7 linked regions of the Homo sapiens genome follow. The protein of the gene in region 7 purifies or fractionates together with the protein of the main gene of each other region. This does not show direct contact. Each region holds a gene or a part of one and is shown on either strand. Other genes may lie near its edges.

Region 1 (4,134 bases), on a different chromosome or scaffold from region 7:
AACAGGGCAAGACCGTGTCCCTAAAAAAATTAAAAAATTTTTTAATTAAAAAATATAAAAGCCTGGTGGCTCCCTCACCTTTACCTCTTCTCTTATATTCATCAAACAGGGAGAAAAAAATCATTTATAAATCCTTTCCTTAACTCTCATTTTTACCAGCATGGTCTCTAGGTGATGAGACTAAGGTTCTGTTGTTTAGCAGTAAAATCTTTTGAGAAGGTGATAATAGTTCTCTTGGTAAGAAAAGGGCCTGGATGGTCCCACAGTGCTCTATTTCAGGATACAGAATCAGAATTCTCTCCAGAAAAGAAGCCCAAATCCAAGGAGGTTCGCATTCAAGTCAGCCATGGTTTGACTGTGTCCCCCAAATTTCATGTGTTGGAAACATAATCCCCAATGTGGCAGTGTTAAAAGGTGAGGGCTTTAAGAAGTGACTGGATCATGAGGGTTCTACCCTCATGAATGGAATCCACTCATGGATTAATGGGTTATCACAGGTGTGGCATCGAGGCTTTCTAAAAAGAGGAAGAGCCACCTAAGCAACCACGTGAGCATGCTCAGCACCCCTGCCATGTGATGCCCTGTGGCACCGGAGTCCCCACTGGCAGAAGGCTCTCACCAGATGTGGCCCTCAACCTTAGACTTCTCAGTAACTATAAGAAACAAATTCCATATCTTTATAAATTACCCAAATTCAGCCATTCTGTTATAAGCAACACAAAACAGACTAATACAAAATCCCAACTACATGAAAAGCAAAATCTAGACACTTGGAGATTATATTTCCTCTATCTTAACAAATTTAACATGCAAGGAAAGTTTGCAGGATTTTGTTCCACTGTTGACATGGGAGGCAGGGAGCAGGGCTCACCTATACCACCATCCAGGAGCTATAAGACACAAAGAGAAAAGGAGACAAGCTCAGGACATGCCTCAAACACACTACGTACCAGAAACGACTGAAGCCTCAAATCCCATGTCTTCTATAGCAGCTCTGAGTTCTTCTGGGCTAATTACAGAGGGATTATAAAGAACTGTTGCAGTCCCTTCGGCCAAAGACACCGATATTTGCTGCACCCCTTCCAGTTGGGAGATCATGCCTTCAATGGAATGGACACAGGATGCACAGGTCATGCCGGCAATGGCAATCAGAGTGGTACTGCATGTGCCCTGGACCTGGTTTCTCGGTGGGGAGCCAGGGGAATGAGAACTGGAAGACCTGTGATCTGTCCCACTCCCTTCGGCTCCATCAGGAAGAGAAACTTTAAAATTCCCAGGTGGAAGTGCCTCGATAGCCCTCTGCAGAGCCACTGGGCTGGTACAAGAAGGGTCATACTTTACTTGGGCAGTTTTGTTCTCCAAGGACACTTGAATACTTTGAACCCCTAGGAGCTGGCCAATATTTTCTTCAATATTCAAGACGCAAGACTTACAATGCATTCCATCTATTCTCAGTTGGAGGGTGACCACATGGCTTCCTTGGTGCCCCAAGGTCTCAGAATTATTAAAATTCTGGTTAGCAGAAGATAAAGGTCTCTTTGGGTTAGTGCTTTGTAACCGCTCAATATCAATTGGTCCCAGGCTTAAGGGAGCCACTTTGCTCTTGATGGCAGCTTCAAATCCCATGTCATTTACATGGTCCCTGAGGTCTTCGGGCTGAATGAGATAAGGCTGATAAGTGATGACGGCCTCTTGGTTGCTGAGTGAGACTTTGACTCTCACTACTCCTTGCAGTTTCCGGACCTTGCCTTCAATGGAGCTGACACAGGACTGGCAGGTCATGCCCTCCACCCGGAGCTTGACCACAGCCTCCTGGGCAGGCAAGGACCTTGAGGGCCAGGAGGCTGCCTTTCCTTCTGCAATGCTGGCCTCGAAGCCCATGTCCCCAATTTGATGGCAAACCTGTTGCAGGCACACAACCGATGGCACATATTTCACAGTGGCACTGCCTTGTTCCAGGGAAACCTTCATGCTGATGATGCCTTTCAAATTGGAAATCCTGTCCTCAATGGACTTCACACATGACTGGCAAGTCATGCCCAAGATCCTGACTGTGCTGGTGGCCACCTGAGAAGAAGGGCCCAGGCCATCCAGACCACCTTCATAGCCAACATTGTCAAAAGCAAAACTCTTCTTCATTGCTGGTTCCCAGGCACGGGTAGGCAAAGAAAGCTTAGATAAGATCTAAAAAGAAAAGAAATAACATTTTTTAACCTTGAAACCAAATATTTTCTACAACATCCCAGCTTCTCTGGCACTGAGAAAATGGAAAACAATGCCACTGGTGTCAAAATATCCCAAGGGTAGAAGAACATAACATACACAGAAAGCAAGCTAAAGGCAGCATCTACAAAATGAAAGAGCTCTGACATTCTTCTCTGACAGAAGCTAACTGTCTGTCCTCCTTAGTGAAATGTCGTTCTCACACAACAGACGTGGAGGATTCTGAGGGAAAGAAGGAAAGCACGACACAGCTTTACATATGGAATGCAGCACGGCTGGCCTGCAGCAGAGGCAGAGGGCACAGCGGCTCACGGTGGGAAGGCACAGGTATCCCAAAAGAGGTCCCCACCTCTGGCTGATACCTCCCCACAGAACTTAGTCCTTTCAGCTCAAACTTTGGGGGTCCTGCTGAAATACAAACCCCAGAATAGTCAACACCTTACTTCTATATCTCTTTCTAGGGGTGTCTGTCTGATTATCTTAGCAGAGGTTAAATGTGCTTAACACCCTTCAGGTACACGCTCCAAATGCAGACTTCCCAGGACCATAGGGTCGGAATCCAAAGGTGGGCCACATGCCTGTGAAAAAGCTTTGGAGGTATGCTCCCTGGGCGAGGTTTAATGAGCACCTGTGGCTGAGCCGAGGGGCGGGAGGGGAAAGGCTGGAAGAACAGAAAGTTGAGTTTCACAAGGAATTTCATAGTTCTGCCTGTGACTCAGTGTCACCGCCCTCCTGGGTGTTCAGGAGAGCTGTAGTCATTACCTGAAATTTCAGGTACATCACTTAATTAAAGAACCTGTTTTCTTAACACAACACAGTACAAGTGTTATTCCCTGGTTTCTACACAGGATGATGTAGTCTCAGTCATTCTATTAACAAGCAAAATCTTCCTTTCACAGGCTCCCAGCCTACAGCTGTCTTAACTAGATATACTTTTTACACCAGAACTTCCATGTGCTTCAGAAATTTGGGAACAGGCCTTTATACATGATACATCATAAAAAAGCACATTTCTCTCTACTTGTACACAATCCTGCTTGTCTTCAGATGAATCTCCTTTACATGGAATGATCTTCTCCTTTTTCCTGTGCATAAAATGCAGACCTTGCCAACCGGCTTTTGAGCAGCTTAACAACACAAATGTTTAAATAACTTGTAAAATGCAGACTATATAAATGTTGATTTCTATATCCACAAAGGTTTGGGATTAATAATTACATAGAATTTTAAATATTCACTGTAGCATTTCCTAAGAGAAAAAAGGGAATAATTAAGTAATTTGGGGGACAGCAGTTCAAAAGATATTGCTGAATCCAGTAAATACATGAATGTTTAATGATGTTAAGGATGGTGATACATTCTGAGAAATGAGTCATCATTGTGACTTCATCGTTGTGTGACCATCATAGAGTCACTTACACACACCTAGCTGATGTAGCCTACCAAACACCTGAGCTGTATGGTGTAGCCTGTTGCTCCTAGGCCACACACCTGTACAGCATGTTACTGTACTGAATACTGTAGGCAATTGTAACACAATGGTAAGTACTTGTGTATCTAAACATATCTGAACATAGAAAAGGTACAGTAAAAACACAATATAAAAGATTAAAAAATGGTGCACCTGTATGGGGCACTTATCATGAATGGAGCTTGCAGGACTGGAAGTTGCTCTGGGTGAGTCGGTGAATGAGTGTTGAGTAGATGTGAAGACTTAGGACACTGCACTACTGTCGATTTTATAAACACTGTAAACTTAGGCTACACTAAATTTATAAAAAATAGTTTTATTTCTTCAACAATAAATCAACATAGCCAGACAGTGGCTCATTGTAATCTCAATGCTTTGGGAGGCCGAGGCAGGAGGACTGCTTGAGCCCAGGAGTTCAAGGTTACAGTGAGCTATGATTG
Region 2 (4,134 bases), on a different chromosome or scaffold from region 7:
TTAACAACTGGGATGAAAGGCATGCAGAGGTCTACACGGTAGAGATTTGTTCATTATTTGAAAAATATTAGCTGGGGAACGGGCGCAGTGGCTCACATCTGTAATCCTAGCACTTTGGGAGGCCACACTGGGCAGATTGCTTGAAGTCAGGAGTTCGAGACCAGCCTGGCCAACATGGGGAAACCCTGTCTCTACTAAAAATACACACGCAAAAAAATTAGCCAGGTGTGGTGGCGCACCCCTATAGTCCCAGCTACTCAGGAGGCTGAGGCAGGAGAATCGCTTGAACCCAGGAGGCAGAGGTTGCAGTGAGCCAAGACTGCGCCATTGCACTCCAGCCTGGGCAACAAGAACAAAACTCTGTCTCAAAAAAAAAAAGAAAAGAAAAATATTAGCTGGGCATGTTAGTACACACCTGTAGTCCCAGCTACTTGGGAAGCTGAAGCGGGAGGATTGCTTGAGCCCAGGAATTCAAGGCCAGCTTGAGCAACAAAGTGAGACTGGCCTCTTAAAAGAAAGACCAGTCTCACTTTTAACATTTTAAACAAAACTAAAAAATAAATTTACCACATATCTGTTATGTGCCAGGCTCTGCACTGGGCATGGGAGACAGACTGTGGAATATGCCATGGCAAGGTGTGAAGGTACAGGGGAAAGCAGAGCCCAGATGATCTGGGTTAACGTCTCAGCTCTGCTCCTTCTTATGACCTAGCTGAGCTGCTTAATCTCCCTCATCTTTACTTTCTCTCTCTGTAAAATGGAGCACGATGAGAGTTTTCACACACTAGCTTTGTTATGAGGCTAAAATGAGTTAATAAATGTGAAGTCCATGTACTGGCACATAGGAGGCCCTCAGTGAAGGCAGGCTGTCATCATTCTTGCATATCCTGTAAGTCAGCCAGTCACCTCAGTGTCTCTAATGACCTCTGCAGGTTACCTGGCATAAACTAGACTGAGGCATCATCTCCTACAAGAATTTCTTTTCTCTTCTATAAAAAAACAAAACGGGATACATGTGCAGAATGTGCAGGTTTGTTACATAGGTATGCGTGTGCCATGATGGTTTGCTGCACCTACTGACCCATCCTCTAAGTTCCCTCCCCTCACCCCACTCTCCAACAGGCCCTGGTGTGTGTTGTTCCCCTCTCCTTACAGGAATTTTAGTGTCTGGCTTCAAACTAACATAAAATTCAAAATGCACCTCTCGTCTTGGAGGATCCCACACAGAAATGACCATGAAGTAGTTATGATGTTTAACCTAAACAGAGCAGAGATGCCCGTGCCAACCAGAGTTATTAGGAACAGCTTCATGCTGATATCATCTGAGTTTAAAATAACCAAGAAAAAGAAGAACTTGCTAAATGTTTTCTCCCAAGGTCAGCCAAGCAGAGGAGTGTGGTTTTCCAGAGGAACTTTGTCATGTTGTCCATATAATTTCCAGGCTGACGGTGGAACTTAAGTGGGGGAAAATAATTCTACTAAGAAGAGTTTCATGACATCAGAAAACACAGAGAAAGTGCTGCAACGAGGTCTCAACACTGTTCGTGTTGGGTCTCTAGAGCCACCACTAGTTTCTGGATGCACTGCTGTTACTATTAAGAAAGCTGTAGGGGGTTGAAACCCACTTGTTTTTATCAGAACAAGACAGAGACTTGCAGTGTATTATGGGAAATCAGCTCCAAAGGACATGAGGATATTCAGTGAACTAATGGGTATGTAATTGGACGCAGGTAGTTTTTCTTTTTTAAAATGCTATACTTTGAGTCGATGTGGGGGGAGCTGTTGTCACCTGGAAATCTATGAGTAATTCACTATGAATGGGAACCTTGAGAGATTCTCTCTCTCAGATTGTTCTTTCAGAAAGAGAATACACAAGCCTTCTCTTCCTCTGTGTCTCCTGCGTTAGAAATTCCACTCTTCCCATTTAGTTAATTAACAAATGTTTACCATCCTTATGCTCAACCAGCATGGAAGGTACAAAAAATATATAAAATGGACAACAGTCAACAGCTAACCACTTGATCCCTCCCTGCCCAGCACAGTTTATGCTGTGTGTGAACAATTTATAAAATTGTTCAATGAAAGAAGTATCCTGTTTCATTGGCCAATAAATGCTTCTATTAGAAGTGATACCGCCAGGGCAGGCGCGGTGGCTCACGCCTGCAGTCCCAGCTGCTGGGGGAGGGGGGCTGAGGCAGGAGGATGCTTGAGCTTAGGAGTTAGAGGTTGCAGTGAGCCATGATGGCGCCACTGCCCTCCAGCCTGGGTGACAGAGCGAGACCCTGCCCACCCCCCAAAAAAAGTCATACCCCCATGGTTTAGAGGCTGTCTCCACATTGTCTTCCTGATAGTTCTTAAGCTTCTTTAAGGAAAAACCAGTTTCCCGTTTATTGCTATATCTATAATATACAGTGCCTGAGACATGATACTCAACACTATTTGTTGAATAAATGAAGGGATTGGGGGTGGATAGAGGACAGATGGATGTATCATGTATGTGTGAATGGATGAAGGAATGGTGACTGAAAGGTAGGACTTAGGATCAAAGGAAGAAGTAGAGCAAATTAGATCGGAGAAACAAGATAACGACAAACAATGAAACCAATGGGAAATCTTTGTGGAGCAAGAGTGTGCCAAGGAAAAGAAGACAGGTAGATGGATTGTTCCATGACAATGTTGAAACAAATTATACTCCTTTTAAGATATTTCCTCTTATTCAGTCATTAGAAGAAAATGGGTATCTGCCAGTCATGGGGTTTCCCTTGTAAACCCATTTGAAAACTATAACTATTTAAACTGTATCTTGTTTTGCTCACAGTTGCATCTGTGGGACCTGACACCTATTAAACACGTAATAAACAGCTGTTGAAGAAAGAGTTCATGCTTTAAGCTTCCTCTTTCCTACAGCCTGGCAGCCACTGCAGACCTTCCCAAGCCCATGCATGAAGCCAGGTTTCAGAGTTCCAGCGCTTCCTTTCCAAACTGATTCTCACACAAAGAATAATGAATTTGAGTTGCCCAAGCTCTAGGAAATGTTACATGATTATTATGATTATATTTCAAAATAGGAGTGATGAAAGGCGTTTCACCAAAGATTTAGAGGTCAAACACCATTCAGAAATGTGAATGTGGGCCAGGCACGGTGGCTCACGCCTGTAATCCCAGCATTCTGGGAGGCCAAGGCAGGTGCATCACCTGAGGTCAGGAGTTCGAGACCAGCCTGGCCAATACAGTGAAATTCTATCTCTACTAAAAATACAAAAAAATAAAAAATAAATTAGCTGGGCGTGGTGCCACATGCTTGTGATCCCAGCTACTCGGGAGGCTGAGGCAGGAGAATCGCTTGAATCCAGGAGGGGGAGGTTGTGGTGAGCCGAGATCACGCCATTGCACTCCAGCCTGGGCGACAGAGCAAGACTTCATCTCAAAAAAAAAATAAATGTGAATGCGGCTTTGTCCCATAACCATCAGACCTCCTTTCCAGAATAAAGGAGACTGCACAAAACGTGTGACATTTACCAAACCCTCATTTGAGCATCCAATAATTTAAAACAATGGCAATGGCAGGAATTATGAAGATGACATTCCGGGTAAGTTCCTGGTTGCGTCTTCCCCAGTTTCATACCTGTTTAAAGTCTAGTGTAAGTCTGGCCTTTCGTTGTTAAGCTGAAGCTAAAAAAGTATTGGATTAGGAAGGATTCTGCCTTCTGTTCAGTCTTCTAACAGTCCTTCTTTTTCTGATTAAGAAAAACTTCTGTCCCCAATTTACATCTACTTATGCTTTCAACCAGCACAGAGTATACCTGCTCTACTTCTATACTAAAGACTGACTTCTCCCTTCTTGGAGTTAAGAACCCTGAACCATGATCCATTTCTTACCATCCACCTTTGCTATCTAAGACACCCTCTCCTTCTTCCCTTGAACCGTCTGCCTCCTCTCCTATAAAGCTTCAGCAGCAGGATGAAGACTCTCTAGTATTCTTCTCATACTAATTGCGTCTCCTTGACTGGCTGTTGCCTCCCCCTTCCTTCCAGCTGGGTGCTCTGCTCTTCTTTTCGCCACCCGTTTGGTGGATTTTAAGCTTGAGAGCACAGACTACAACTGCTGCCTTCTTCACCAACTTCACAGCAGAG
Region 3 (4,134 bases), on a different chromosome or scaffold from region 7:
CTTTCTTCAGTGTCAGGTATTTTCTGTATATTAAAGTCCTCAATCCACCTTTGTCTTATCATTTAAACCAAATATACCCTCAGATAATCAAAATAAACAGCTGAACTCTGCTAGAATGCTCAGAAAAATACATAATCAAGAAGGGTACTATGATAAGCATATCTGTGTTTAAAAACTATATAGTGGAAATATATTTTTTGCCCTTCAAAAATACTTAACATCAGTTAAACTGGAACATGAAAAATTTAACTCCATAATAATCGATTTCTTATTAAAATGTTAGTTACAAAACTGCTTCTATGTAAGAAATCAGTAAACAAAAGGTAAGTGACTTACATAGACTTTACATCTTTTATCTTCTTAATAAGGGATTCTCTCTTTTCCTTTGCTTTCTTGGATAAATTTTCTCCTTTCAGTATATCTGCTACAAATGTTTCAACATCTAAACCATGCAATATAAGAAACAGGATACAAATTATAAGAAATAAAGGTTTTGTGAAGATAAATAGGACAATGATTGTTTCTACATATAAGTGTTAATACCTGTACAATTTGTTATAGTTATTTATCATTCCAAAGCATAACAGTTGAAGTGTGTTTCAAATACTAAGTTGAACAAATCTGATCACCACTTAGCTAATAAAATTTGTAAGTTCTACTTATGCTTACCACAGCAAATACTATTTGGATGTTTGGCATCATTAAACAAGGAAGAAGCACACACCAAGTTTTAATAAACTATGGTGCCCCATAAAACAAATTCTTTATATGGAAGCAAGCACCAAGCTTTTAAGCATGTGTTAATATCATTTTCTAGTATTTTGTAAGTTCCTGTGTGAAAATGTCATTCATATTATTATGTCAATACAAGCTAATGTCTCTGGCAAGGGTCTGTTTTCCCTAGTATAATCAATTTTCAGGTATATCCAACATGTAATGCTTTAAAGGAAAAAGTAAATCCACTTTTCTAGCCAAGATTCCCAAATCAAGCCCTCCTTCTTCCTACCTACACACTCATTCTGACTACCCTCAAATAAAAAAGATAACCAGCTGTGTAGTTTTGTGAGCTCTTGCTTCTTGCCTTGGTATTACCACCTGAAATATTTCTTAAGGAAGAAGTACAAACATAAGTTCTTCCACTATATAAAAATATAGTCACCAAGAAACAAGATTTCTGTGGCTTCATGTAACATTCCCTCATAGCCTCTTTTTTTAATTTTAGTAAACTTCTAAATTACGGTGCTGTCTGGGTCTCTCTAGTGTAAAATTCCAACAAGTCCTTACAGGTTTAATTTTTATACTAGTTCCATTCTTATTATTCATGAAATACTGTGCAATTTTAATTTTATTTTCAGAATTTCACACCTCATTTTGAAATATCTAATATGGAGGATATCATTAAAGATGTTTAAGTAGGCATGGCTATAAATCATTGATTATTTCATATGGAAGGGATTTGTGTTTTACTTTCTTTTTCCTTAACTACTTTGTATAGCATCAAAACAATATTACGTATAAATAGTTCAAAGTAGTATAATAATCTAATAATCTTTCAACTGTACTTACAATTAACCATTTAAAACCTAGTATATGTGATAGAATGTTTGTAATTCTTGATTACAAAAGTATCTTGATCCAATGAGGAAAGCCAATTAAACTTTTATACATTCATAATAAATGTGTACAGGTAATTTTTCACTAAGTCAATATGACAAGTAAAATAATTAAGAATACTGTAATAATTTAAAAAAAATAGCTTATGGTTTGAAGTCTATTAACGACTAATGTGTTAAAAATTTAAGTATCAAAATGAAATGAAAGCAAATGTCACAGCTTCTCTTTCCTTGAGTTATATTAACAACTGATGTATTAAAAAATAAGTATCAAAATGAAATGAAAGCAAATGTCACAGCTTCCCTTTCCTTGAGTTATATTAACAACTAATGTGTTAAAAAAAAGTATGAAAATGAAATGAAAGCAAATGTCACAGCTTCTCTTTCTTTGAGTTATATTTTGATGTGGGGGACATAGAGACATAATCTAGTACCAGTGCAAATTAGACACAGACTTCTAAAGTGAATTCAAAATAACAAAACTTATGAAGAAGCATGTTGCTCTAAAAGCTTTAAATTTTGTGCCCAGAACAGCAAGCAACCTTTGGATATTTCGATATTAGCTGAAATGGAAAAGATCACTGGCTCCCCTGAGATCATTACAGTAACTTTTGCAAGAAAGTGGAATAAGGGAAGAAGCAACATCCCTACTGCTGATTCGTCTTCCAACCAGACTCAATAGGAAGAATCACTGGCCCAATGACTGGGGAATAGTCTGCTTAATGTTATTTTCACTCAATGTTTGCCTTTGATTTCCTCTTCCATGAGTATTTAATTGCCTATTTTATATTTTCATTATACAATCCAAGTTTAAACAAACAATCTATTTTCTATCACTGGAAGTAATAACAATGAATTGCCCCCAAGAGTTTTTTTCTTTAAAAGGTCATTTCAGTTTTATAAAAATTCAGAAAAAAAAAAAAAAGGCTGCAATAAACACTCTACATAGTGCCCTCTAACGCCCCCAAACATGTTTTTAAAATACTGATCCATGTTACTATTTTATGACAAAGTTTTTTTTGAAAGAGTGTGGGACTGTAGGAAGAATCGGTATTTTTCAAGGATGCCAGAAATTCAGAGATTGGGTATGGTCTTTTTTTTTTTTTTTTTAGAGTAGCCTTTTTTAATATACTTATTCCTAAGCTTTTCCCAGAAAAGGTTTAAAGCAACTAAAATTATTTAATAAACAGTGACTTTTTCGTGATTATTTCTCAAAGGTGATGTGGAGAGAGTAGAAACTGCTTTGCTTAAAAAAAAAAAAAAAAAAAAAAAAACTTTAAACTGGAAGCAGTTCCCGAAATAATTTTAGTTTGTTGACTGTCCACAACCAAACTTGGTTGGTTTTTAAGCTTTTGAAATCTAGGTTATTTCTTAAAATCTACACTTTACCCGTTTCTTTTAGAATCGAATGAAACCAGCCTCTTCCAGGCACAGGAGACTCCTAGACGTGCCGGTGGCGTTCGGCCGGTGTCTGAGCAACACACCGATCCTGATCTCGCAACGCAAAGACAGACCAAGCGCCGCAAAGAAGTTGTAGGGCTGCGAGATGCTCCAGCTCTGCCCTCTGAGAAACGCACTTCAGCGTTAAACCCCAGGGTTCCTCTCAGGCGGAGCAGTGAGCATGGAGAGCCGGGTCTGGGGCAGAGCCCTCACTAGACAAATGGGGCTGGATCTGTGGCTTTGTAGCTCAGAGCCAGGGTAATATTTCAAAAGCAAGCAATAAGAGTCTTGGGCGAATCAAGTGTTCCTCTGGCTGGTTGGAGAAGAGATTTGAAGCTTCTTATTGTGCTCTAAATAGCCCTGCAAACGGTAAACTAGCAAGCACAGTAAACTAGCAAGAGCGTTAGCCTTCTTCTACCTTCCTTTGAGGGTCGTGTTCCTCGGTTAATATGTAGATTTCACCATTCCTGAGTGCCCGTAATTCAGGGAAACGCAGTAATTTGATAACAAGAAAAGGTCAGCCTCCCTCGCTCGACCCTTAGCCCGGTTTTTAGAATTCTTCCTCGGAGGCAGGGGCTCAACTCACACTCTCACGCATACTGGCCACGGGAGAGAAGCGTGGGAGGCCCACTCTGCGCCCGCGGGAAAGGGTTTAACTACCAGGTCTAACTACCCCCACCCACCCCCATCTCCTGCCTCCGGGCCGGCAGCCAAATAGACTGCAGAGTCTACACTGCTTGCATTTAACCCCAGAATTACCCCTATCTCCATCAGCCTCCACCCCAGCCCAAGTCATCAGCAGGAAAAAGTTATCCTGGTGAAAGTAAACGTGATGGGATTTTAGCTCCTAATACACCTTAACACTGTCAAGAGTAAACCTTATCTCACGGTACAGCTGTAAGGATCTGGGGGAGAAGGCCTCTGAAAAGATCAGATTTACAACTGCTCTGTCGATAAATGTTAAGGTCTGAAAACAAAATTAAAAGTTGACGTATACTGGCTCAGCAATCTTGAGCAGTTTAAGTTAGAAATCTCTCAATTGCCATGGAGACCCCTAAGAGGCAAACACACCAAATCACTG
Region 4 (4,134 bases), on a different chromosome or scaffold from region 7:
ATGCAGAGCAGACGGCGTCTCTCAAGGGTACCTTTGCAGCTTTAGTAAATTTAGCAGCATTGTAGTCTCCCCCCATTCGTAACACATCCTCGGTGCAGTAGTAGAATTCGGAGAAGCCATAGAATTCACTGTTCTGGAAGTGAATTGGGGGCTGGTAGACCCCATTGAGGGAAGTCTGGGTCTCGTTTGTTTTATTCATGAAAGGCTGGATAGTCTCTCGACACAGGTCAAAGTCTCCAGTCCCTCGTAGGTATATGGTTTGTCCATTTTGCTGGATTTCATCTTTAATGTCTAGGGGTAGGCAGGGGTCCAAGTACGGCATATCAGGAGTCAGACCAGTCTGTTTACCCAGGAGCCTATGGCAAAACAAGAAACTTCATCGTGAGTCCTACAGAAAACTGTGTTTTCAGGAAGTGGCTGCAAACCAGTGTTTCTCAAAATACGCTCTGTGGGACATGAGACCTGCAGGACCGTGTCTGTGGAACAGAAAAGGGTTCCGAGATAATTAGTTAGGAAAATACACACTTGAGACTTTCTTGGAGAGTCAGGATACAAACTTGCCTGCAGCAGACAGGCTACCAGAGTCCAGTTGGATAACCTACCCGATTAGCCGACGATCCTGGCAACAAGGCCTGATGTTCCCAGCTGCTGGGCACAAGGCAACTGTGTTACCAGCCCCATTTTTGCACTAGTGCTTGTGGTTTTACCTAATACAGATGGAAGGAACGTGACTGTGACAAGATCCGGTCCTGGGCAAAGCAGGTTAGATGCTTTAGAAAAGTTACTAGAAAATTATCAAACTAGGTGTGGGTAGGATTTTTAAAACTGGGAAAAATTAGCAAACATCTAGAAGGATTTGGTATCAAATTGCCTTGCAAATCTCTTTTAAGTCCTCAGTATTCTTTAAACAAAGACAAACTGGTATCTCAATGAGGGGTGCAGTGCATGCCAAAGAAAGGATGGAGTCTAAAAACAGACCTTGGTTCAGAGGAAAAGATTAGCAAATGAATACAGAAGTTAAGACAGAATGTCTAAGGCTTGGCTCTATTTTTATCATTCTGTTTCAACTTATTTCTTTCCTTGATCAGCTATGGGTCCCAACTGCAGCAGACAGCAGTTTCCATTGTACAATGGGCTCTGAGATGCCCTGTAGAAAATAAACATTAATTTTGTTAACTGAAAGGCACTAGGCTTATTACTTGCTAATGAAATTTCTGGGAGTTAACATCTGTCATCCTATTGTGTGTGCATGCCTTCAAGCAACAAGAAACAGAGAAGAGCTCACAAAATCTCAAGTGATGTTGGTGTTGGATACTGTGAAATCACAGGGGCCTGACAGGTGTTGAACTGTTAAAGGGTTAAGCATGGTCAGAATTCAATATTCATCACCGACAGTCAAGTTTTCACTTTTCACTCAACTCACAAGTTGTGTATTCCTCAGATCAGGGTTACTCATCATGCAGTTGAATGTAATAAATTAAGGTCTTTGCCATAAAAATGTTCGCTTAATTTAAAAAAATTAATCACCACTACAAATGGCGAAGAGATAAATGTGTACTTCAATGCTCAATTCATGACATATGAAACACCTGTAATTACTATAAAAGTCCAAGAGTAGTCAAATATATATTTCATGCTATTATTTTTAGTTGTCCTATATCTAAATTAAGAAGTACCACTAAACTATCCATTATATAAAGCTTTCTGACATTAAAACCAATGAGTAAAAATTAAGGTTTCGGAAAAAATATGTTACAAATGTTGTCTATAAAATATTTCTAGTTTAAGACTACTATAAAAATGATTATACCAAAATGTGCTAAATACCAATTAAAAATACAAAATCATGGGACTACCAATCTTATAATTAAAACTATTCAGTTAACTTTTGGAAGAGACACAGGAAAAGGTTTTTATTGCTTTTCCTATTTACACACATGACTTTGTGGTAAATGTACTGAATAGCTCCAACTTGGTCTTTTTTCAAGTTCAGGCCTTCACAGGTTTATTAAGATTACATTAATCAAGGAAGTATACAATCTCTTAGCTCTATGAACTAGGATTTTTTTCCCTCAAAATTGTTTCATCAAAATAAACAAATAAAACACAGTAATAAATAGGATAGCTTACATAACCCCAGATTCAGATTTTTTTATTTATCCAAATAGCTTTTATGTTCTTACAAATTTCAAATAAATAAGTGCTATATACTTACACTTATACAGTCAATTTAAACCAATAGAGTGCTGTTTTGTTTTATATATTTTCTATACCACAATTCTTCATACACTCATTTTTTAAAGCTTCATTGCTAAATTCAAAAGCCACTAACTCTGACTCTTCTAGATAATTTATTTCTCTTGAATAATTCCCTTCACGATGGTTCTTATCCACTAACTAGCTGCACTGGCTGCTTCATCCACAGAGTCTCCAGAACATCACATATTTCAATCTCCTCAGCAACAAGAGAACACACTACCTGAGGCCTCCAGGACACCACGAGTGCTCCAGATACTGGGTTTCCCAAGGACTCTGAATCATGAATAGCACCACCCAGGGCTCCAAACTATTCTATAGCTTGATGGTGAAATTTCTAATCCATCAGTTGAGATGCGGGTGAGAGAGCGCACGCACACACCTCCTTCAGGGCACGGTGGGACAGAGGGCCAAAGGCAGGACCCTGGTGTGCTTTCATCTCTTCTCCCTGCTCAGCTAGTGGGGGAATAAAAAGCTAACAGTGCAACACACTTTTGCTAATTGAGTTCTTCCCACTTTGCCTGGGTCTGTTTTTTATGAGGAGAGACCTAGGTTTGCAAATGACTGCCAAGTAGTGAAAGGTGCTTTACCTGTTCTTTTGAATGGTGTTGGCAAATATTCTGTCTTCGTATCTCTGTCGAGCAGCATTGCCACCAAACCCAAGAAACGTGGCCACATAGACTCGATACACATGCTCAGTTTGGTGAACATCACATCCCAAGTTAAATTCAGCTAACAAGTTTTTAGCTACTTCTTCCTGCAGACATAAGCATAACAAACCTTAATAGCTTAAGCTACTTTAGCCTCCTACTAAAAAGAAAAGTCTAAAAATAGTCTCATCTAAAAGGGACAAAAATGTCTGCTTCTGCACTTCCCAAGGACCCTTCTAAGCATCACTCATAATTCAATATGACAATTCTGATTTAGGAAATTTCAGATGGGCTGCAAATTTGTGATACTGTTATGACTTTTTGAAAGAGAAAGTCAGCAAAATAGTTCATACCCTCTGACATAATTTATTTCTGGAATCCTATGCTGTGGAAATACACCTAAACATGGAAATGTTTCTATATGCAAAGATGTCCTTTGTCATTCTGTGACAGAAAAAACTAGATGTCATCTAAATATATAATAGCAAGGGAAGGTTAGTTACAGTAATCAATAGCTTATGGAGGAACATGCTCATGCACTGTTAAATAAAGGACAAAAATCATATAAACTAAGATTATAACAACCATATTTTTTAAAACTATGAGTAGAAAAAAAAAGAAATTCACTAAAAGGCTAACAATGGCTTTTTTAGGTGATGAATCCATGGGAAATTTTTAATCTTGATTTTTCAGTATTTATTCCAAACGTTATTTCTATGTATTTTTTACTTTATATTGAGAGGGAAAAACATGATTTTTTACAAAGAGTGTAACAGTCTCTAGAGGCATGTCTGGAATGGGAGGTAGGAAAAACAAATTGTAATACTTGAATTTACAAAGCATTTTTCCAAGGAACTTAATAAAGATGTCAGTAACATTTATTGAGAACATACTAGCTGCCTGGCAGTGCATTAGATATACTGGATGCATTATCTCATTTAAACCTTCTAATAACCCCATGTTGTAGGTACTTTTGTTCACGTTTACAGATGAAGAAACCAGCTTAAAGAAGGTACATGACTTGCACAAGGTCACACAACTAGTGAGGAGGAGGATGATGAAGAAACCCAGGCCTGTCTAGCTCCACGGTCTCACTTTGAACCGTCCCCCGCCGGCCACGCTATGCTGCCGCCCACCTTTGAGGGGAAAATCCAGAAAGCTAGGCTTTGGTGTTAATCTACAGCTGAACACAAATGGAGTAATAAAGACGTGTAGCAATTCAGAAATA
Region 5 (4,134 bases), on a different chromosome or scaffold from region 7:
AGCCCTGGCCTCTGTGTTCTTTATATACCTAGGCACAGGATATGGGGTGAAAAGCTTTAAGGTAAAGTCTCATAAATACGACTGTGGTGGCCAGTTGTAGCTTAAAATAGCAAAATGAAAAAAAAATCTGTCTTGCTTTTCAAGACTGACTGGGACAGGTGTAATACAAGAAGCTGTAGCAGGGCACAGGGTAAGTCTTGATTGGAAGAAATTTTCCAGGTGGTAAGAAAATAAAAAACAGGAAATCAAAATACAGAAAGAAATCCTAACTCAAAAAATTATCTTTTTTTCCTTTAAGAGATTGTCACTCATATTTAAAACTGTAAGGAATTTTCTGCTAGAAGAGTTACTATGGTTTATGTGAAATCTAAAGCTTCTCTAGCTAGAAACACAAGAGAAGAACAAAGTTTAATTAAGTATTAACAGCAAAGTTTAATTATATATATTTACCTCTTTCGGGGGTGAGGTTCAAACCCAATTTGATGGGGACGCTTTAAATTTTACACAAATTCAAAAGAAAGATTAGATGAACCTCAAAACAAACTTGGATGCAAATCACAGGAATGGCTGAGAAAAAAGTGTAGTCATTTTTCAGAATGGGCTGAGATACCTAATTGGAAAATTCCCCTCTTGTCTACTTGATGGTAAGACGCTAAAGATGCCTCTTCTGACCCTACCAGAGTTGTCATGTTGCAAAACTCTACAAAAATTTCGGGATCACATTGAATGCGTGCCCCTAGGACATGAGTCCATACGCAACCATTGCCCACAGGGGTCACAAAAGTTTCTTGAGGAAAATCTTCCTCAAGAAAGTAATCAATGCCACAGCCTCCCTTCTCCTACCTCTCATACTCGAGTTAACTAATTTCCTGTGTTAGTCTCCATCCCAGGAGATTTTCTGTATTTCTAGGAGATCAATAGCCAGGGTGATCCTGAGGATGGATCAGATCTACTTGAATATTTCTGAACTGCTTATGCTTCAGTTAGCATTGTGTTGAAACAAACATCATAATAGCCAAGGTTTTTTGAGCATTTATTCTGCGCTAGGCACTATGCTAAGAACTTTTAAAGTATTGACTCATTTAATCTTCACAACAACCCTGTGATAGGTACAGATGAGGAAACCAAGGCACAGAGCAGTTAGGAAACTGTCCAGGGTCACACAGCTGGTAAGCAACAGAGCTGGGATGTGAACCGAGGAAGTTCAGCAACAGAGTTCAATTCTGTGAATTTTAAAATTATTCACGAATGTCTAACTTATACAGTGTCTTTCTCTCAAAACTATGTAGTACTCCATTATCTTAAAGGTCATCCACTGACAACATTTATGATGACTGTGCCACTTCCTAACTCTGAGGAGTGGGGACGGCAGCGTTCTGTTACTATTGGGAAGACAATGTTAATTATTAGAATCTTCGCGTGAAGGTGTCAAGTCGGTCTTGAATTTTGCAGAGGCAGTCTAAAGCTCAGGGTAGCTGCGGAGCTGCTGGGGCTTCCCTTCCCCCTTGGGGTGTAGAGGGGTACCCTAAGGACCAACTACTGAGATGGAGGATGCTTGTCTAACTCCAAGAATCTGAGAATTCCGCAAATAAGTAAAACAGATGTTTTTTCTAAATGAGGAGGCTGTGAATTTACCAAACATACGTATACTACTGTTTTACAGAGAGACTCTTTCAGCTAAGAGCTGGGTAATTCAACTTTTTTTTCCCCCTATCACAGCCTAATGTATAGGACGCTGGGGCATACACTTCCCCTTGTAGAAGTCTAGAAGTCAACTAAAGCCCACAAATGGGTACCCAAAGGTATAAAAGGTATGGCCTTGCATTGTTTGAATTTTTCCCTGTGTAAATCAGGCAAACTAACACTGATATATGCGAGGCCTTATTAACCTGGGGATAAACATGCTGAAAGTCAAATGAGAAGTAAGCTATTACATTTAACAAATTCAATAGTGATTATTATAGTTGTAATGTCAAGATACTGTCATATTAAGGTTTAAAATCTTTAAAATGAATGCTTACTGAAGAGTCAGAATCTTAAAGTTAGTCTGTTTTGAAAACAATTTTTCTCCATGCAGGTGGACTCCTAGGAAGTTGGTCCAGTTAATCTGAATAATTTATGTTTAGCTAATTAAAAAGTTGAAAATTTGAAAAAAGAAGAGAACCAGTGTTTTATAGATATTAGCAAAATAAACACACAAGAAATTTTAAGCATAAGTTAACAGAGGAATTTTAATTGTTTAATCCTGTGAGTAAATCAAACAGACAAAAATAAGAAACTGATGGCTGTACTATATTCTTGTTGGCCAAGATATTAATCCACACCATTATGCAAATATGTCTCTATAATTTCTAGTGAATACTAGGTGTGTAACTTTCAACACCTCTGTTCTAAAGGGATGTGATCAGGTCAAGAGGTCATTTTTTAATCAATAATTAGCTTCAGATTTTATAAATACTATAGCATTTGATAAAACACTAATTCCATACATTATTCAAAAAATCTCCTTTTAAAGAAGGTATAAAGATTTTTCAATAACACAGAGCTTTTCTGGCTGAATAATAAATAAATATCTTAAATGCTTAAGACTAATTGATACTAATAACCTGCATCTACCAGAAAACTGAAATTGTAAGAGTTCTCACACTTTGAAAAGACAGAAGACCAAAGAAATTCTCTTGAACTGTTGGAAATTTTCAGTTCTCTTTTGGGAAAGAAAAATGTTCTAGCTGCAAAGCCTGGCTAATTAAAGTCCAAACTACGTATGTATGAGAAGAATTCACAACGGCTAGAGGAGACGTTCTTTTGTGTAAAGATGCTGACCGCTGTGGTGAAAACAGGAGAACTAAGAACTTGTTGGTGCCCTTTTCCTAGAGCTCTGAGAGCGGCTGGCCCTTGGCAGGGGTCATGATTCCTTTCCAGCAATCAGAGAGCAAGCTACCAGGAAGCTCACCAAGACACGCTGTTAAAGCCTTGCTAAAATGTGCTAAGATGCTGTGCTAAGCTGGTCAGGTCTTACCTACCTGAATTACATCTAAAGTGGGGCTGGGTGAACATAGGGGTGGTGGGGGGAATTTCTGCCCAGAGAGCTCTTTGCTGTCTCAAGCTACCAATGTGTTATGTGCTGCTCTAAACAACCCTGTGCTTCTAGAACCTTGGTTAGCCTGGCTGTGATCAAGATGCACAGTCACCCCACACAGCTCGCTGAAAGAAACAAAGGGAAGAAAGAAAGAGAAAACGCTACTTGCAGTACTTACTGAATTGGCTTCTTTTTCCAAAGCAGGGCATGAATCGTTGCTTGCTGGATTCTTTGGTATAGCAAGTTCAGACTTCTTAGCTTTTGGCTCAGCTTTGCTTTCTTTGGCAACTGGTTTTGTCACAGATTTGGAGGGACTCCACTTGTTAGCGGATGGCTTGTGCACCAGTGCTGAGGAAGACTGGCTGGATCCATCGCCGTCCTCCACGTCTACTGGAGGGTGCTGGGGGGCGTTCAGCTTCACGTAGTAGCCGTGATACTGAGAATGCAGCTCCCCGTTACTGGGGTTGGGGATGTGGTGGCGGCCAGAGTACTTGGACTGGGGCACAACCGCTCCTGCCTCCTTCGTGGGAGCCTTTGACATCAAGGGCTTATTGACAATGGCCGTCACCTGCTCATCAGCCACACTCCTTTTGTCTTGGTTGAGTCTCGCCCCTGAGCTGGGGTTTTGCTTCTTCAGGGGCTTTGGGGAGGAAGCAGGAGAGTGGCTGTGTTTGGGACTTGCCTCAGGAGATCTTGGGGGTGTCGTGCCTTTGCGATAAAAATGAGGAGACTCCTTTGGTGTAGGTGGCTTTTCTGGTACCTTTTCTTCTGGATTTTCTTTAGCATCTACACCTTCCTGAAATCTCTGTTTGACGTAATCAGGGCCTGGCCAAAAAAAAAAGAAAAAAGAAAAAAAGAAAGGAGGTATATATACATATATTTTGCTAAATCAGATTAACCTTTTCTCTTTTAAAAATAATATATTCATAAGGCTTTGACTAAACACATATTTCATTCTCTGGGGAAAAGTTTATTTATTATGGAAAGGCTGCTTTTAAGATAATACAGAATCTAAACAGTTCTGGCTTCCCTGATAATTGCATTCTTTCTGCCTA
Region 6 (4,134 bases), on a different chromosome or scaffold from region 7:
CCTGTTTTACATTGTACTTCCCTCATCAAAGTGCTTACCATACAGTTTTGTAATGTGTGATTTAAATATTTTTTGACATTAGATTATAAGCTCTATGAGGACAAAAACCATGTTTGTCTTGTAATCTTTGTATCCTTGGCATCCAGCACAAAGCCTGGTACGTAGCAGGCTCTCCATAAGTGCTTGCTGAATGGCTAAGTGGTCTACATAAAAGATGGTTTATTCTTCAGCATTCAATCTTAAATTTTCTGTAATAACTCCTACGTGCTATGCTAAGTGCTGAGGATACAAAGATGAATAGGATGGTTACTACCCTCTAGGAGCTCACAATATAGTGAAGACAGTACATAAATAATTATAACATAATATGGATGTGCAATGATAGAAATACATACATGATATTGTAAAACAATATGAAAGAGGGAGACCAAACCAATCTGTAAGGGGTTAGGACAGATTTTCTGGAGAAGATAATGCCCGAGCCGAAGGAAGTTTTAATTTGGGGTTAAAACCTGATATTGTATGCACATTTTGGGGTTATGTGCATTTTTCTAGAGTGGTTTCAAGGTATTCATCACACAGTCAAAGGTTTCCACCACCCCTAACATAAAAACCATCCTCTCAAAGGATGAATAAGAATCAAGTAGGGAGGCTGGACATGGTGGCTCACGTCTGTAATCCCAGCACTTTGGGTAGATCGCTTGAGCCCAGGAGTTCGAGACCAGCTTGGGCAACGTGGTGAAACCCCATCTCTACAAAAAATACAAAAATTAGCTAGGTATGGTGGTGCGTGCCTGTAGTTCCAGCTTATGGGGAGGCTGAAGTGGAAGGGCCACTTGAGCCTGGCAGGTAGACGTTATAGTGAGCTGTGAGCATGTCACTGCATTCCAGCCTGGGTGACAGAGCGAAACCCTGTCTCAAAACAAAACAAACAAACAAAAAACGAATCAGGTAGGGTAAAAACAGGTGGTAGGGGTAGGAGGACAGGGCTTTCCAGATAGCAAAGGGCATGAGTAAAGGCGCAGAGTGAATAGCATGGTATATGCCGGGAACTACACATGGTTTGGTGCTGCTAGAAGATGAAATTCAAAGAAGGAAGAGGTTAAAAATGAGGCTAGACAGGAGGAGTGGATGTCCAATCACTGAGAGCTTTGAAGGCCACCCTAAGGAGCTTAGATTATAGTCTGTAGGTGATGAGGGTTATTTAAGCAGGGAAATGGCATGGTCTGATTTGTTTTATATTATATAGAGCGGTATGGTGGCTGTATGGAAGACACACTTGAAGGAAACAACAGTGTAGAAAGAGAAACATTATAGAAATGTGTTATGGGAATTCAGATGAAAGATGATAAAGCCCTGAATTAAGACATTTGGTGACAGAAGAGGAGAAAACAGATTTGAGAACTATTTAGAAGGTAAAATCAACAGGGAGAAGTCAAGGATGACTAGTTTGGAATACAGGATGAAGAGTGAAGCTACCCAATTTATATAAAGAATACTGGAGAAAGAAGAGGTTTAGGAAAGGGGGCAGAGGATGGGGAAAATGATGAGCTCATTTTTGAACACACTAAGGGCCTGAGGGACAGCCAGCAAGATGGATCAAGATATCCAGCAAGTATCTGGAATAAAAGACAGATTGTGAAGGCAGGTCTAAGATATACCTATGAGTTGAAACCACCAAAGTACATGAGATCACCTGGGAATAGTATCTAGAGTAAGGAGAGCAATGTGCCAAGAAGAAAACACTAGAGGATAAGGAAAACAATTTTGAATAGTGAGGTAGAGGCAGGAACCAGAGTGTAGCAGGTCAGAATGAATGGGAGCTAAAGCAGTGGGGACAGTAAATGCAAATTACTCTAGGGAGAGCCAGGAATGAGAAAAAAAGAAAACATTAGATAATAGGCTAGAGAAGAATGTGGAATAAAGGGAAAGTTTATTGGCCAAGGGGAAAGAAAGCAGTCAAGTAAGGAGAAAAAGATGAGAAGGATGGTGGAATACTAGAGGATAAACTGATAATACTATTATTAATATGATTAGGTAACTTTTATTGAGCATTTACTATACTACAGGCTCTCTAAGTAGTACTTAGCATTATAATCTTATAAAAATAATTAAAAACTCAGTACAGTGGTTTGATTATCCTATTTTCACGGAGAAAGATGAGGTTTAGAGAAGTTAATCAATTTATAGTAAGTGTCAGAATCAAGATTGAACTCAAGCTTGTTTGACTCCAAAATCTGTGCTTTTTTTTAAATATTATTTTTTCAGCTCTTATTGAGTCTGTCTGTTTAGAAAATCTGTGCTTTTAACCACTTCAAAATACGCTACTCTAAGATCAAAGGTAGGTAGAATGGCTTTAAACCGGAGTAGGGGAACCCCGTTTTCTGAAATGGGAGGAAAGGAGGTAAGAATGGTTGTGAACACAGATAACCTTTTAGATTAAAATGCAGAAAGTATTCATAGTAGGAGATCATACCTTTTGGCTTCACTTTTGTTGAGTAAGTACGAGGCAAGGTTATCTGCTAAGAGTAAGAGAGGTGAGTTAGAAAAAGGAGCTTTGAGGAGAGTGACAAAGATTCGGAGAAACTTTGAGGGGAATGAAACAAGTAGCTGATTAAGGTCAAGAAAAGGAATAATTCAGTGAGCTGAGGGTTAAACTCCTGGCGTTGGCAAACTACACAGCTATGTGATTTTCTATAGTAGCCTTCAGGCCTCTGTATTAGTAGTAAACAAACTATAGCAGTGATCCAAGTGTGGACTTATATATACATGAAGGTAAACGAACAAGAGGGTGTAAGAAAGTAAGTTGGATCCAAGCATCTAGATCAAGCAGAAAAGGAAAGGGTCAAACAGATTAGGAGAAAATGTCCAGGATATCCTTTGGCTATTATAAATATTTACCGGTGGAGACAGATGTAAATTCAGAGTTTAGAGACCATATTTATATGACTTATGAAGCCACGACTGAAGACAGAGAAGTTGGGCAGTTAGGACTGAGGGTGGTATGTATAGTGGAAATGGATGATTAAAAAAAAAATCACCAAGATTGCTATGAAATGGAAGAGAAAACAAGCAAAAATTTTAAGTTTATATGGTGGGGAGGGGAATGGAAGAAAAGAGAAACAGATATATACCTTTAATATTTCATTGTGGCCTCCTTTCACATTGAAAAAGAAAAGCTTAAAAAGACTTTCAGAACAAAATTATGTCCTTTGCAGCAACATAGATGCAGCTAGAGGCCATCATCCTAAGCAAATTAATGCAAGAACAGAAAACCAAATACCACATGTTCTCACTTCTAAGTGGGAGCTAAATATTGGGTACTCACCAACATAAAGATGGCAAAAACAGAAACTGGAGACTACTTGGGGGCAGGGGAGGGGAGAAGGGGGAAGGGTTGAAAAACTAATTATTGAGTACTATGCTCAGTACCTGGGTGACCGGATCATTTGTACCCCAAACCTGAGCTCCCACAATATACCCGGCACAAGTACCAAATCTAAAATAAAATAAAAGTTGAAAAAAAAAAAAAGACTTAAACTACACACACACACACACACACAAGTAGCTGGAGAATTCATTTACATCCAAGTAAACACAAATTCTGGCAAGATTATAGAGGATCCAAAAAGAAAGCAGAAGCAAAATGCAATTTCAAATAGCTTTGCAAATAAAATGGAAGGCGTATAGCTTCTTATTAAAAATGAGACTTGATACTTTCAGAATTGTACAGAGTCTTGACCTTAGGACTTAAGAGTGTACTCTGGAACTGATAAGTCTTATGACGGTATAGAGGGCTCAAAACATGAGTTAGTTAACAGTTGCTTTTAAAAAAGTGACTTCTGGGTTGAAAATTAGCTACTGTTAAAAAAAAAAGATGGCCATCAGCAGGACAGTTATTAAAGAATTAACTATAAAAGACACCTTTCTTGGATCATTTATTCACCCTTTTAATCATTTAACAAATATTTATTAGTGCCTAATATGTGCCAGGTCCAAGGGATAGAATGGCAAATGAGAGCATGAATGCTACTCTCAAGGAGTTTATAATCTATGGAGGAGATAAACAAGTAATTACCAAACAATGTGGTAGTGTTGTTACAGGGGAAGTAGGTGAAGGGTACTATGGCAGTA
Region 7 (4,877 bases):
GAGATTCCAGAAGGTGAGAGTCATCCCAAGGTGTCAAATGTAGCAGAAAGAACCAGAGAGATAAGGCCTGAGGAATGCCTGCAAGGTTTGGCAAAATGAAAGTCATGAGTTGCTCTTGCCTGAGCAAGGTGAAGGGTTAGAGTTGGGGAGGAGAAGCCAGAATGCCAAGTGTTGAGAAATGAGGAAGCAGAGGCAGCCAGGGAAGACCATTGTTTGAGGTCCGCATGAAACACTTGGAAGCTAGTTGGAGGGAGCACTTCAGGAGGAGGTTGGCTTGATAATTTTGTTTTTAGGACTTGGAGAGGCCAACCTGTTTAAAGGCTGAGAGGAAGCAGCAAGGCAAGGAAGCCTGGGAGGTGGGGGAGGAAGATTTTAGGGCCAGACCCCACCCAGACCGTTTTCTTGTGGTTTGCCCAACACTACCACACACCCCTTAATCTCATTTAATCATTTCAACACCACGAGGTTTGAAACAAACGGTGAGGTATGAAACAAAACGGTGAGGCCAGGGATTGGGAAGAGAAAGCTGTGGTTCCATCTCGGTCCAGCGTGCTGTCCACGCCAAGAGGCGGGCAGAAATGCTAGCCTCACACAATCTAGGGGACCAGGGGTGGCTGTGGCGCCCTCCTGCCCGCAGGAGGTGTTATCAGTGTCGCGGACTCGGGCGGTGTGCTGCCCCTGGTGAGATGTCATCACGTGCGTGGACCAGGGGTGGCGGCCCTGGTAAGTGTCCAGGGACTAAGGGCTCCCTGCTCTCCAGGTGTGGTGGACGGGGTCCGCATGCATGCCGTCCTCTTCTCTAAGACGCTAAGGCGGCTGAGTTCTGTAAGTAGCGGCAAGAAGAACAGTCACGGAGCGGGCCGGGCACAAAGGGCGCAGGCCAGGTGGCCCCAGGCGGAAAGATGGCCGCAGCCAGAGGCTGCAGGTGGCCGGGCGCGCTCCCTGCGCGCGTCGCGGAGAGGACGCAGCGAAAATCAAACCCGCGATTTGGAAATCCGGCTGCGGCCCTACCCCGAGATAAGTCTTCTGCGGAGGGAAGTATTTAATTTGCATCCAGGACGGTCGGAAGAGGCGCCTTCCCGTCGGAGGCGAGGCGCGGGCGCGTGGGAGCTTTCTCGTGTGCGCTCCTCCCTGTCCTCCGCCTGCGGCCGGGGCGCAGAGTCCGTGGTCATATGAGAATGACAGTTTTTTGTCTGTTTGTTTTGGCGGGGGCGAGGGTGGCTAAAGGAATGAAAGAGCCTTGCATTAGGAGCTGGGCTCTGGTTTCCTCTCCACCATTCTAGCACAAGCTTCCTCCATGACCATGACTCTGGGCAACGTCTGTCTAGTCACTGAGCCTCAGTTTCCCTGTTCATAAAATGGGAGATTGGACTATGATGTTGTCATAGCCCAAAGGGGATGAAGTGGGATTTGCCGTTCCATTTCATCCCACCAGAAAAGCCGCCCTCCATTAGCCACCCCGGGCTGACACCCAGCGTTTTTGGACGGCCTCGCCTCCCCTTACCTGCCTCTTTCTTTCTTTTGCCCGTTCGAGGGTGGCAAAGGCGATGGGTGGGCGGGGCCTATAAATCGCCCCGCCCCTCCCCGCCCCTTCCCCGCCTCCTGACGTCGCCCGCGCCCCTCCGCCCTCCGCGCGGGGATGAAGCCACCACGTGACCTCACATCCGGCGCGGGAGTCCTGAGCCCGCGCGCGCTCCCCCGCCTGCCTGCCGGCTCTCCCCGCAGCGTGATCGGGCGCCGCCGCGGAGGGGAGGGGGGTTCTCTACGTCGCTGGCGGCGGGGGGGCCGTTTCGGAGTGCAGACCGCCCCCCTCCCCTGCCCACCTCCCGCCGCCCTCCCTTGTTCTCGCCCTGCCGGCTGCACGCCGCCGCCGCGGGCGCGGAGGAGGAGGAGAGCGCGGACGTCCCAGGGCCGGCCCGGCCCCGCCGCGGCGCCTCCTTCCCTCACCCTGAGCCGCAGCGCGCGGCGCCGGCCGAGGGCGATGGGGCTGGGCTGAGGCGAGGCGGCGGCGGCGACAGCGGCGGCCGGGTCCCCCGCGGTCCCTGGGGCTGGTCCGGCCGCGAGGGAGGCCGCGGAGGAGGCGGCGCGGCGGCGGCCAGTGAGCGGCCCCGGTGAGCGGGGCGAGGGGCGGGTGGGCAGCGGCGCCGGGGGAGGTCGAGGAGGCGAATGGTGGTGTCGGGGCGGCGGGTACCGGGCGAGGTCGCGGCCAGCCTTCTCGGGCCGGAGTTGGGCATCGCGGGGACGGGGAGTGTCGGGGGCAGGTGAGGCCAGGGCAGGAGCCCACGCGGTGGGTGCGAAGGCCTGGGGGGGACGCGCCGCCTGCCGGGGGCGAGCGTGGGGGCCGGGCGCTTGGTGGTTGGTAGTCAGAGCTTTCGGAAAGTCCTGTGGGAGGTGGAGGTCCTGTGGGCAGAGGCGTAGGGGTGCTGGCAGGGCCCTCGATGAGTCTGTGCGGGACCCTAGCTCGTCCTCAGCCGTGGAGTATGGAGCTGCTTGCCATCTCCGCATTTCACAGATAAAAGGAGTGAGTCCCGTGGAGGAAAAGTGACTTCTGACTTGCCTGAGGCCTCCCACTCGGACTCTGTGGCAGTGAGGACTAGAAAAACCCAGGGCCCTTTGCCCTAGCAGTGCTCTCGTGGCCACTCTCGCTATGGCCTTTCTGTCTCTCCATTCCCTTCACAGAGTCAGGTTCTGGTGGAAGTATGACCTCTGGCTTTTTTGGGGAGGTGAGGGGTAGGGATGAAGGGGGAGGGAATCGGGTTGGGATTGGCAGGAACTCAGCTGGGGGCTTCCCGGTGTGGAAGAAGCTTTGTGACAGGTGTTTATTGTTTCCTCTTCCCATAGATCTGACAGACATCCCTGAATCTTGGTGTTTGGACATAGGAGGTATGAATCACTCACATAATTAGCCGCTTTTAATCATCAGTGTCTTAGAGCTATATTTAGTGGTTATATTAGTGCAAAATGAATGGGTGTGGAGTCGTACACCTAGAAACAGACTTGTGTTCCTCTATACGATTCTAACTAAATGAGTAGAACATACCTGGGTATGTCATGGCTACTTTAGATCTATGAGGCAGGAAGTTAGAATTTAAGGAATCTAAGAAATGCAGGGACTTGAAAGATTATTGCAAAATAAAGCCTTTAAAAAGTATCGTTGTTAAAATGAAAGTGTTTCGATTTGATTCCTTTGAAGGGTGAGTACGTAATGAACAGTGCTCTATCTTTGGTTAGAGCTCAGCCTCTTTACCAAGGTACATGTATTAATTTTGTTTCACTGGAATATATGTGACATTATTTTCTCTAGAGGTTTGTTGCTTTGCTTAATAGACTACAGTTGCCAAAAATCAATGTGTGTGGGCATCTCATCCTGGTTTGCAACCCCTTTAAGGCAAATCAGTGCTTGGAAGTTGTTCGAAGTAGTAAACCTATTATTAATGATTGTTGTAGAACATAACTTTTGCTGGTATCTTTGATTTGCATTATCCTACCATTAGATCAGGCAGAGAGTGAAATAATTGAGATTTTGAGCCTTGTTAGAACAACAATGCCTGGCTTTGGTCAGGGGATTGGGTAGGAAAAGTGACACTATTTGGTTGCTTTAAATTTTTTTTTTTTTTTTTGAGATGGCATCTTGCTCTGTTGCCCAGGCTGGAGTGCAGTGGTGTGAACTCGGCTCACTGTAACTTCTGCCTCCTGGGTTTCAGCGATTCTCCTGTCGCAGCCTCCTAAGTAGCTGGGATTTCAGGTGTGTGCCACCACGCCCAGCTAATTTTTTGTATTTTTAGTAGAGACAGGGTTTCACCACGTTGGCCAGGCTGGTCGTGAACTACTGACTTCAGGTGATCTTCCTGCCTAGGCCTCCCAAAGTGCTGGTATTACAGGCGCTAGCCACCGAGCTTGGCGGTTGATACTTACATAGTTAGTTTAGGTCACCAAATATACAACACACAGAATCCGCTTTGGATAAACCACATTATCGAGCTCATTTTGAAATCCTATTTCTGTCTTCAAGATTTTCGAGATTATAAACCACTTTGTTGTCATTCACAAGTATAAAGTTCTTATTTCCAACATCACTGAGACTGAGAAAAAAGACAGAATAAAGATAAAGTTCCATAGGGCGTCCCCATCACTGCTTATTCTCACTGAGTTTGACCATTGAGTAGGTTGTATATCCATAGTAATATGATATAGTGCCTATGTCCTAAGATTACTATTTATCTTAGGAATAAAGCATATTCATATTCTAAAACCTCATATTCACAGTAGTTACAAAACCACCACGTTATACAAGCATAGTTTGATTCAATATATGGAATGGAAGAAGGAAAGAAACCATTATGTGCCAGGAAAAGTGCTCCTTTCTTTACATATGGTCTCAACTAATCCTCAACACTTTCAGGTAACAATATTCTTCTTTGTTAAAAAAAAAATTAAAGAAGTTAAGGAGCTTACAGTATAAGCGACTTTGAAGACAGACAGAAACCTAGCTCTGTGTTAATGTGCTTAACACAGAGGTTTCTGTCTCTGGGTTTATAAGGTTAGTTGTATGTGACTAGGCAACATAACATCTCTGAACCTCAGATTCTGGTGATAAATCAGATATGTCATCTTAATAGGTGTCACACACTAGATCACCTTCTTTTAGCACACAACTGTGAACTGTTTTGACTGTTTTCTTTGATAGGTGATAAGCTGCCAACTCCTATTCCATTTATCATCCATTCAAATATAGCTCAGTTTAACTCTTAGATATGTTGTACTCATCCTTTTCTCCCTTCTCTCTCCCTCCTTAGAATCACATTTCTTATTTTTTAAAGTTTTAAAAACATTTTTTAATACTGCTTCTTGCAGAACAGGGCTGCTCGATAGGCAGT

The links.
Region 1: the proteins of ATP13A3 (region 7) and ATP7B fractionate together in Homo sapiens (co-fractionation; one large-scale study listed by BioGRID). This does not show direct contact.
Region 2: the proteins of ATP13A3 (region 7) and AGPAT4 purify together in Homo sapiens (affinity purification with mass spectrometry; one large-scale study listed by BioGRID and IntAct). This does not show direct contact.
Region 3: the proteins of ATP13A3 (region 7) and SKAP2 purify together in Homo sapiens (affinity purification with mass spectrometry; one large-scale study listed by BioGRID and IntAct). This does not show direct contact.
Region 4: the proteins of ATP13A3 (region 7) and ENTPD4 purify together in Homo sapiens (affinity purification with mass spectrometry; one large-scale study listed by BioGRID and IntAct). This does not show direct contact.
Region 5: the proteins of ATP13A3 (region 7) and JPH1 purify together in Homo sapiens (affinity purification with mass spectrometry; one large-scale study listed by BioGRID and IntAct). This does not show direct contact.
Region 6: the proteins of ATP13A3 (region 7) and GPR89A purify together in Homo sapiens (affinity purification with mass spectrometry, with the first as the bait; one large-scale study listed by BioGRID). This does not show direct contact.

Annotation. Positions count from the first base shown.
Region 1 is NC_000013.11:51,972,985-51,977,118, forward strand, and holds part of ATP7B (copper-transporting ATPase 2), read right to left. Parts: intron 2,185-4,134; coding exon 951-2,184; intron 1-950. UniProt on the Homo sapiens protein: Copper ion transmembrane transporter involved in the export of copper out of the cells. It is involved in copper homeostasis in the liver, where it ensures the efflux of copper from hepatocytes into the bile in response to copper overload.
Region 2 is NC_000006.12:161,267,356-161,271,489, forward strand, and holds part of AGPAT4 (1-acyl-sn-glycerol-3-phosphate acyltransferase delta), read right to left. Parts: intron 1-4,134. UniProt on the Homo sapiens protein: Converts 1-acyl-sn-glycerol-3-phosphate (lysophosphatidic acid or LPA) into 1,2-diacyl-sn-glycerol-3-phosphate (phosphatidic acid or PA) by incorporating an acyl moiety at the sn-2 position of the glycerol backbone.
Region 3 is NC_000007.14:26,854,449-26,858,582, forward strand, and holds part of SKAP2 (src kinase-associated phosphoprotein 2), read right to left. Parts: intron 3,276-4,134; exon of another isoform or gene 3,003-3,275; intron 443-3,002; coding exon 337-442; intron 1-336. UniProt on the Homo sapiens protein: May be involved in B-cell and macrophage adhesion processes. In B-cells, may act by coupling the B-cell receptor (BCR) to integrin activation. May play a role in src signaling pathway.
Region 4 is NC_000008.11:23,436,903-23,441,036, forward strand, and holds part of ENTPD4 (ectonucleoside triphosphate diphosphohydrolase 4), read right to left. Parts: intron 3,014-4,134; coding exon 2,847-3,013; intron 357-2,846; coding exon 32-356; intron 1-31.
Region 5 is NC_000008.11:74,241,272-74,245,405, forward strand, and holds part of JPH1 (junctophilin-1), read right to left. Parts: intron 3,905-4,134; coding exon 3,258-3,904; intron 1-3,257. UniProt on the Homo sapiens protein: Junctophilins contribute to the formation of junctional membrane complexes (JMCs) which link the plasma membrane with the endoplasmic or sarcoplasmic reticulum in excitable cells.
Region 6 is NC_000001.11:145,610,590-145,614,723, reverse strand, and holds part of GPR89A (Golgi pH regulator A), read right to left. Parts: intron 2,523-4,134; exon of another isoform or gene 2,477-2,522; intron 1-2,476. UniProt on the Homo sapiens protein: Voltage-gated channel that enables the transfer of anions such as iodide, chloride, bromide and fluoride which may function in counter-ion conductance and participates in Golgi acidification.
Region 7 is NC_000003.12:194,483,800-194,488,676, reverse strand, and holds the start of ATP13A3 (polyamine-transporting ATPase 13A3), read left to right. Parts: upstream 1-1,674; 5' UTR 1,675-2,111; intron 2,112-2,129; exon of another isoform or gene 2,130-2,261; intron 2,262-2,440; exon of another isoform or gene 2,441-2,723; intron 2,724-2,841; 5' UTR 2,842-2,883; intron 2,884-4,877. UniProt on the Homo sapiens protein: ATP-driven pump involved in endocytosis-dependent polyamine transport. Uses ATP as an energy source to transfer polyamine precursor putrescine from the endosomal compartment to the cytosol.